2 linked regions of the Homo sapiens genome follow. The protein of the gene in region 2 interacts with the protein of the main gene of each other region in a biochemical or structural test. Each region holds a gene or a part of one and is shown on either strand. Other genes may lie near its edges.

Region 1 (4,069 bases), on a different chromosome or scaffold from region 2:
TGCGGGCTGGCGTCGGCTCCCCAGCTCTGCGGGGAGAAGCGCTCTGCGCCCAGCACCTCCACCAGCGCGCGCTCCAGGCCGCAGTAGTTGAAGAAGCGCTCCTTCTCCGACAGGGGCAGCGAGCACGTGGGACACAGCGCCCGCTTTCCCGCCGCTTCCGGGGCATCCTGGGGCGCAGCCCAACCCCCTGAAGCCGCAGGTCGCTCTGTGGAGGCCGGGCTGCTCGGGGCAGCGTCCCGCGGGGCACCCAGAAAGAGGCGCCGCACCAGACCCTGGCCCTTGGCGTTCTCTTTGTTCACCGAAGCCTTGCAGTCCCGCTTCTGGCGGTAGAAGATGAGGGAATCAGGCCTCGGCAGCCGCCTGCCGCTTCCCCGGCGGACCGGCCTGGGCGTCCTGGGCGATGCAGGGGGCCCCAGCTCGTTGCAGGGGTGCGGCGTGAGCGGCCCAGGACTCCCACGCAGGGCTGGCTCCTGTCGCCTAGCTATCACCTGGTGCGTCTTGACATACTTGGCTTTGTCGGCTTCCAGCCTCTCCACGGCGCTGGGGGTCCGTCCTCTGGACGGGGTGGAGGGAGGGGCCAGGAGCATCTTAGCAGAGCTGGTCAGGACAGTGCCCCATAAGTAGCCAGCCACGGGGCCTAGAGCAATTGGCTTGGGCTCTCACTGACCTGCAGGGAGAGAGGAAGGTCAGGGGAAGGGTAGGAAATGCCCCTGGTCCTCTCCTGCCGGCATTCCTCAGTATAGGATCAGTCAGCCACCCTCTCCCATCCAGGTTAGCCGGTGCCACATCCAGGGAGCAGAGGCTCAGGCCATCCCCTTTCCCTGTCCTTCAGAGACATTGAGTGGGGTCTCTCTGGCCACTCAGAAACATATTCCCCTTTGAAGGTGCCCCAATCTGGCCACAGGGTCGTGCAAGCAGGCCTTAGCAAGCAGGACACTTGGAAAAGGAAACAGGGCTGGTCCCGGCCCAATTCCTGAAAGTGGCTTCAACCGGAAAAAATACCTCTTCCCAACCCAGCAGCTTTGAGCCCAAGACAAGAAGGCTCCCAGCCACAGGCTGGCTCCAGCAGGGCCCACCCTTCCCGCCCCCAAACACCGAGGTCGGGGATATAACCACAGGGTAGGAGCCTCCAGTAATTGCAGCCAACTGCCCTGCCCAGGCCCAGCAGGGCCATCGGGGCAGGAGAGGGAGGTGGTCCCCAGGCCCTATCAGCTACTGCCAGCTACTCTGCCCCTGCCAAGGGGATCGCAGAATGCCAAACTGTAAACATCACCTTGTTTAACCTTTGCATTTCCATTTCATGAAGAGGAAACTGGCTTGGAGAGGAGGGGGGCTTGCTCAGGTCCTATTGAGAGTTAGGAGCCAGGACTGGAACCCAGGTTTCTTTTTTTTTTTTCTTTAGACGGAGTCTTGCTTTGTCACCCAGGTTTCTTGCCTTGCAGTTCAGATTGGATCTCTCACTTGCCTATCAGAACTTCCCACTGAGGCCAGGCGCGATGGCTCATGCCTGTAATCCCAGCACTTTGGGAGGCCGAGGTGGGTGAATTACCTTAGGTGAGGAGTTCCAGACCAGCCTGGCCAACATGGCAAAACCCCATCTCTACTGAAAATACAAAAATTAGCCAGGCGGGGTGGCGCACACCTGTAATCCCAGCTACTTGGGAAGCTGAGGCAGGAGAATCGCTTGAAGCTGGGAGGCGGAGGTTGCAGTGAGCCGAGATCGCGCACCACTGCACTCCAGCCTGGGCAACAGAGCGAGACTCCGTCTCAAAAAAAAAAAAAGAAAAAAAAAAAGAACTCACTGATATTTTGCGTGTATTCCCGCTGCTATAAAACCAAGCAATTTCCGTTAGAAATGGGCCCCTTGCCTCACTAAAAAGTTCCTTCCACTAATTCTTCCTAATAACCTGCGCTCCCACTCCCAGAAATTTGCCCCCAGGGTCCTTGTCCCTTTTTTATCCTAAGACCTCATGACCCTTTTCCACCTCCCTTCTGCTGGGGCAAGGAGCGAGGAGGGGTTGTAAATCAAGAGCTGACAGTTCTCTTGGCAGTAACAGAATGGGCCACCCACATGGCCCTGCACACCCGACCCCACCCCTATCTTCCCCTACTCCCCCTGAGTCCTGGAGGCTGAGGGACCTTGGATCTGGGGACAACAAAGGAACAGAATTAGCCAGGGAAGTGGGGAAGGAGTCTGTGAGAGGCCTTGGGGCAGAGACCCTGCCAGGTCCAGCCCACCCCTGCACCCAGCATCTAGTGTGTAGTCAGTCTGCTCATAGGTAGTTGAGGCCTGGGAACCAAGGAGAGTCTGGCAGTGTCCCCCTCCCTGTCTCCCAGGGAGTCTCCTTGGCAGTGGGTCAGATTCCAAGGTCCCAGGAAGGCACTGCTTGTCTGACCCCATGGGTGCCCTCTGTCCTCTCCTCTTCTCCCCAGCCCTGAGCAGGGAGACTATAAAAAGTTCCTAATCACAAGGACCAAAATAGTCTGTCATCCACAGCCTCTTCCCTGCCTTCTGGGCTAGCCTGGAGGCCGGACCTCAGACATCCCGCCCTAGAAGCCTGGCAGGCAGCCTCGGGCCCTCCATTCCTTTGCCTGCCTTCTCCCAGTCCTGAAACTTGTGGTCTCAACTCTGCCCAAGGCTTCTGCTCTGGGCATGGGCCATCTTTTAGGCTCACTAGTTTGGCACCAGTCTCCCTGCCCTCAGGCCCCTGGGTTCCTTCTTACCCCAGCCCTGGGCTCAGGGTACACTCACCTCTGCATGGGAGGCCTAATTGCAGGGGTCCTTGGGCAGGTCCAGACTGAGGGCAGGAGTGGACAGCAAGGACTAGAAGTAACTTTGGTGGCAGCCAAACCTCACTCTCCACAGGAAAAGCAGAGAAAGCCTCCACCCCCCGCCCCCCAAATTAACCCTCGCCTTCCTGAGGCAGATCCTGGCCTCCATTAACTCTTTCCTGATCACAGTCCTGCGCTGTGGAGACCTGTGAACCAAGTCCAGCTCCTTTTATTTTACAGATGGTCAAACAGTCCCAGCCCGGTTAGGTGATTGGCTGTGGAAGCACTGTGAGCTTGGGCAGAGCCAGGACTCCAAACAAGGCCTCCTGATCCCCAGGCTTCCTCCAAAGGCCTGGGGTGGGGGCTCCGTATGTGGGATCAGCCCCCTCCCTGGGCTGTGGCAGATGCTCTGACAGTCTGAATGGGAAGGCAGAACAGGGTTCTAGTCAACTTGCTTTTTTCCCTCTGTAGCAGGCTGAGACCTGTCTTGGTCTGGGTGCTGGGTGGTGTCAAGCCTGCTTTCCCTGGGGGCGAGACCAGGAATCTGCAGCCTAAGGGTGGGGGCATTGGTGCTATAGATGTGCAGGTGAGCCTGTGGCGGCAAGTCTTGTCATGAAGGTGACCCTGGAGCCCACTGGAGCTGCCTCTGCCAAGGTCCTTTCATGGCAGATGGGATTGCCTGGGAAGACAGTGATGAGGGGCTGATTCCAGGGCCAAGCCCAGGTCCTTTGGCCCGCTTCCTTCTCTGCCCACACTTGGAGCCTCTTAGAGCTTCTTCCATCAGAGTTTCTTCTCTGACACCTTATGTCTCAAGGTGAAACCCTACCTCATAGGAGACACCTCCCCTCTCCCCAGCAGGCAAACTAAACTCTCCAGCCCAGACTAAGACCAGTGCTCAGGCCAAAGGTTCCTTTCCCCCCTTGGCTGGCCACCTTCCCCAAGTCCCTCCTCCTCCTTTCTAGCCCTCTTTCATGTTTGCAAAGCACATTCCCGTCTGTGCTCTCTGATCTCCTTTGACCGCCCCCAAACAAGGACCCTAGACAGGCGTCCAGCAGGAATGACCCCCCACTTAATGAGTAAGGAAACAGGAGCTGAGGGGGGAGAGAGATGCCCAAAGCCCAGCTCCAAATCCACATTTGGAACTGCATCCTCTGCCTGTCAAGTCAGTAGTGGGTCTGAAAACCCAAGGCCCATCTCCCGGTAAAAGGTTTTTATTACCTAAAGGGGGGATTTTGTTGGTGATAGTTCCATATTTTGTTGCTACAGCACTTTTCAAAATGCCATTAGCTGCTTTGTC
Region 2 (3,422 bases):
AGTCTGCCGTCAAGGCCCCTCCCCTGAGCCTTTGCCCAGCTCTTTGGTATGAAGCTGCCCCTCCCTCCCTCCAGCACCAGACCAGAAGAGGAGCCACCTCTGGGCCCCCATACTGCCCTGTCCCACCACTGGCCACTCTGTGTCCCCTACCAGATGTGCTTCTTAAGAGAAACGTGGTAGCAATAGCTGGTTAGAAGCGTGAAGAGAGGAGAGAGAGTGGGTAGACAGGTGGGAGGAGGGGCGGGAGGATGGATGGATGGATGGATGGATGGATGAATGAAGGAATGATGCTGGATGGGTGGATAGAAGGAGAAATGGACAGACAGGCAATGCTGAGTCATGGAATGGACAGACAATGCTGAGTCACGGAACGTACAGACAATGCTGAGTCACGGAACGGACAGACAATGCTGAGTCATGGAATGAACAGACAATGCTGAGTCATGGAACAGACAGACAGAAGACTGGACAGAGGTGGGATGGACAGACAGATAAAAGAGACAGAAAACAAAAGATAAATTGGCATACTGGACATTGATAATTTTTTTCAAATGTCACCCCTAGATTAGCAGAGTTGGTGAAACAGGAGGAATGACAGCTTTAGGGACTGTGTGCTTTGAGGAAATGGTCACTTGAGCATTCTCGAGTTCTTCCTAGGCTCCCGATGCAGTGACCTCTCCCTTCTTCAAACCTCGAAGCTCAAGTTTGTACTTCCAGCCTCCCTTCTATCCTGCCCCTGCTTCCTCTCCCCCAGCCCCTTCTTTCTTGCACTCATTCAGCATTTCCAGGCACCTGCTCTGCAGTGGACCTGCTTTTGGGGCAGAGTGGAGGAATAAGTAGGTCACAGTCCTTGCTCCCAAGGAGCTGACAGCCGAGGAGGCAGGATGGGGTGGGGCGGTCCCACCACAGGTGATTCCGACACAGCAGGATGAGTTCAAGGCTGGAGAGGGAGGCCAGGGCTCTGTGTGCTATGAGGAGGCACCTTCTGCCACTTGAGTGTCCTGGGAATGCAGAATGGTGTTCCCCCAAATTCGTGTACACCCAGAGCCTCAGAATGTGACCTTGTTTGGAAATAGGACCTTTATAGATGTCATTAGTTGAAGATCTTGAGAAGAGACCTTCTTGGTTTAGAGTGGGCCCTAACTCCAATGATGGATGTTTTCATAAGAGAAACGAGAGAGAGATGTGCACACAGATACTCAGAGAGAAAGAAGGTCAAGTGAAGACAGAGGTAGAGACTGCAGGGAGGCAGCCACAAGCCAAGGATGCCTGGAGCCAGCAGAAGCTGGAAGGGGCAAGGAAGTAGCTTTCCCTGGAGCCTCAGAGGCAGAGTGCAGCCCTGCCGACCCCTTGACTTCAGATCCCCGACCTCCAGAACTGAGAGGGAACACATTTCTGCTGTTTTAAGCCACCAGGCTTATAGTAATTTGTTATAGCAGCCATGGAAAGAGATAGCGTCCTGAAAGAGCAGAAGGAATCTATAAGGCAAAGAGGGAAAGGTCCACGCAAAAGGACTGGCCTGAGCAACGGTCAGAGGCCTGAGTGCATCGGCCCGTCTGGGCACCTGCAAGGAGCCGAACACAGCCAGCCAGGGTCTGGAGGGAGGGTCAGGGTGAGGGATGAGAGGAAGGGGTAGCAGGGGATGGCACTCTTCAGACACTCACCTTGGTGTGATCGTCCGCATCCGTATGCCGATGAAGCGCTTCTTCCAGTCTGGAAATGAAACACGGCGAGACTCCGTTAGGGCTGCTGTGAAAAGCCACCACGCTCCCTCAGGGGACAGGCAGAGGACAGAAGTTCCCCTGCAGGACCAGGAAGCAGCAGGTGTCATTCTGCTTGAGCTGGCCCAGTCCCCCTGCGGTCCAGCAAAGCTGCCCTCTCCTGACCATCATCATGGAGCTGAGGGGTATTCTAGCTCTAGTGTGGCTCGCCCCACAGGTGGCTTCATGTCCACCGCATCCTGCATCCAACCATGTGAGCTCCGACATCTGCTCTCCCAGCTGAGCTCCAACCCAACCCCAGTGGCCAGTGGGGCTGTCCTTTCTGGCTTCCATACTGCTGCTTCCCCAAATGTTCCCTGCTTGGAACTGAACTCATCACCTCCCACTGGTCTTCCTCAAAACGATACTCGCTGCTAATGTCCAGTGAGTACTAACCATGTGCCAGGCCCTGTGGCTGGGGCACTGCACACGCAACTCACTGAGATAGTGTCTCCATCCCCCAAGCTGCTCCAATCTGTGAGTTAGCAGGTGTCTCAGATCCAGAAATAAACAAGAGTCAATAAATTTAGAATTTTCATTTTATATAAGAGTTCTGACCACAATTAGAAATCAATAATAGGTATCCAGAAAATTCCCAAATTCTTGGAAATTAATAATACATTCTAAATTACTCATCTTCAAATAAGTAAAAAGAGAAATTAGAAATTATGTTCAGCTGAATAAAAATGAATGTATAATATATTAAAATTTGTAGGTTGTAGAGGTAGAGGGAAATTAATAGTACTAAAGTGTCTATATTAGAAAATAAGAAAAGTCTCAAATCAATAACCTCAGTTTCCGTCTTAAAAACTATAAAAAGACCAAATAAAACCTAGAATAACCAGAAGAAAAAAAATAATTAAAAGTCTGAATCAATAATAAAGTTGAGTGTGAATTAATAATAAAGCTGAGAGTGTGAATCAATAAAGCTGAGAGTGTGACTCAATAATAAAGCTGAGAGTGTGACTCAATAAAGCTGAGTGTGAGTCAATAATAAAGCTGATAGTGTGAATCAATAATAAACCTGATAGTGAAAATCAATAATAAAGCTGAGTGTGAATCAATAATAAAGCTGAGAGTGTGACTCAATAATAAAGATGAGTGTGAATCAATAATAAAGATGAGTGTGACTCAATAATAAAGATGAGTGTGAATCAATAAAGCTGAGTGTGAATCAATAATAAAGATGTCTGTGAATCAATAATAAAGCTGAGAGTGTGAATCAATAAAGATGAGTGTGAATAATAAAGTGTGAGTCAATAAAGAGTGTGAATCTAATAAGAGTGTGACTCAATAAAGCTGAGAGTGTGAATCAATAATAAAGATGGGTGTGAATCAATAATAAAGAGTGTGAATCGATAATAAAGCTGAGAGTGTGAATCAATAATAAAGATGAGTGTGAATCAATAAAGATGAGTGTGAATCAATAATAAAGATGAGTGTGACTCAATAATAAAGCTGAGTGTGAATCAATAATAAAGATGACTGGATCAATAATAAAGCTGAGAGTGTGAATCAATAATAAAGATGAGTGTGAATCAATAAAGGTAAGAGTGTGAGTCAGTAATAAAGTGTGAATCTAATAAGAGTGTGAATCAATAATAAAGCTGAGAGTGTGAATCAATAATAAAGATGAGTGTGAATCCATAATAAAGATGAGTG

What was found. Proteins that work in one complex are often made in the same cells at the same time.
Region 1: the proteins of HTRA3 (region 2) and FAM110D interact in a test that uses a peptide from one of them, tested with the Homo sapiens proteins (one large-scale study listed by IntAct).

Annotation. Positions count from the first base shown.
Region 1 is NC_000001.11:26,157,810-26,161,878, reverse strand, and holds the start of FAM110D (protein FAM110D), read right to left. Parts: upstream 2,801-4,069; 5' UTR 2,753-2,800; intron 668-2,752; 5' UTR 588-667; coding exon 1-587.
Region 2 is NC_000004.12:8,300,754-8,304,175, reverse strand, and holds part of HTRA3 (serine protease HTRA3 isoform 1 precursor), read right to left. Parts: intron 1,714-3,422; coding exon 1,665-1,713; intron 1-1,664. UniProt on the Homo sapiens protein: Serine protease that cleaves beta-casein/CSN2 as well as several extracellular matrix (ECM) proteoglycans such as decorin/DCN, biglycan/BGN and fibronectin/FN1.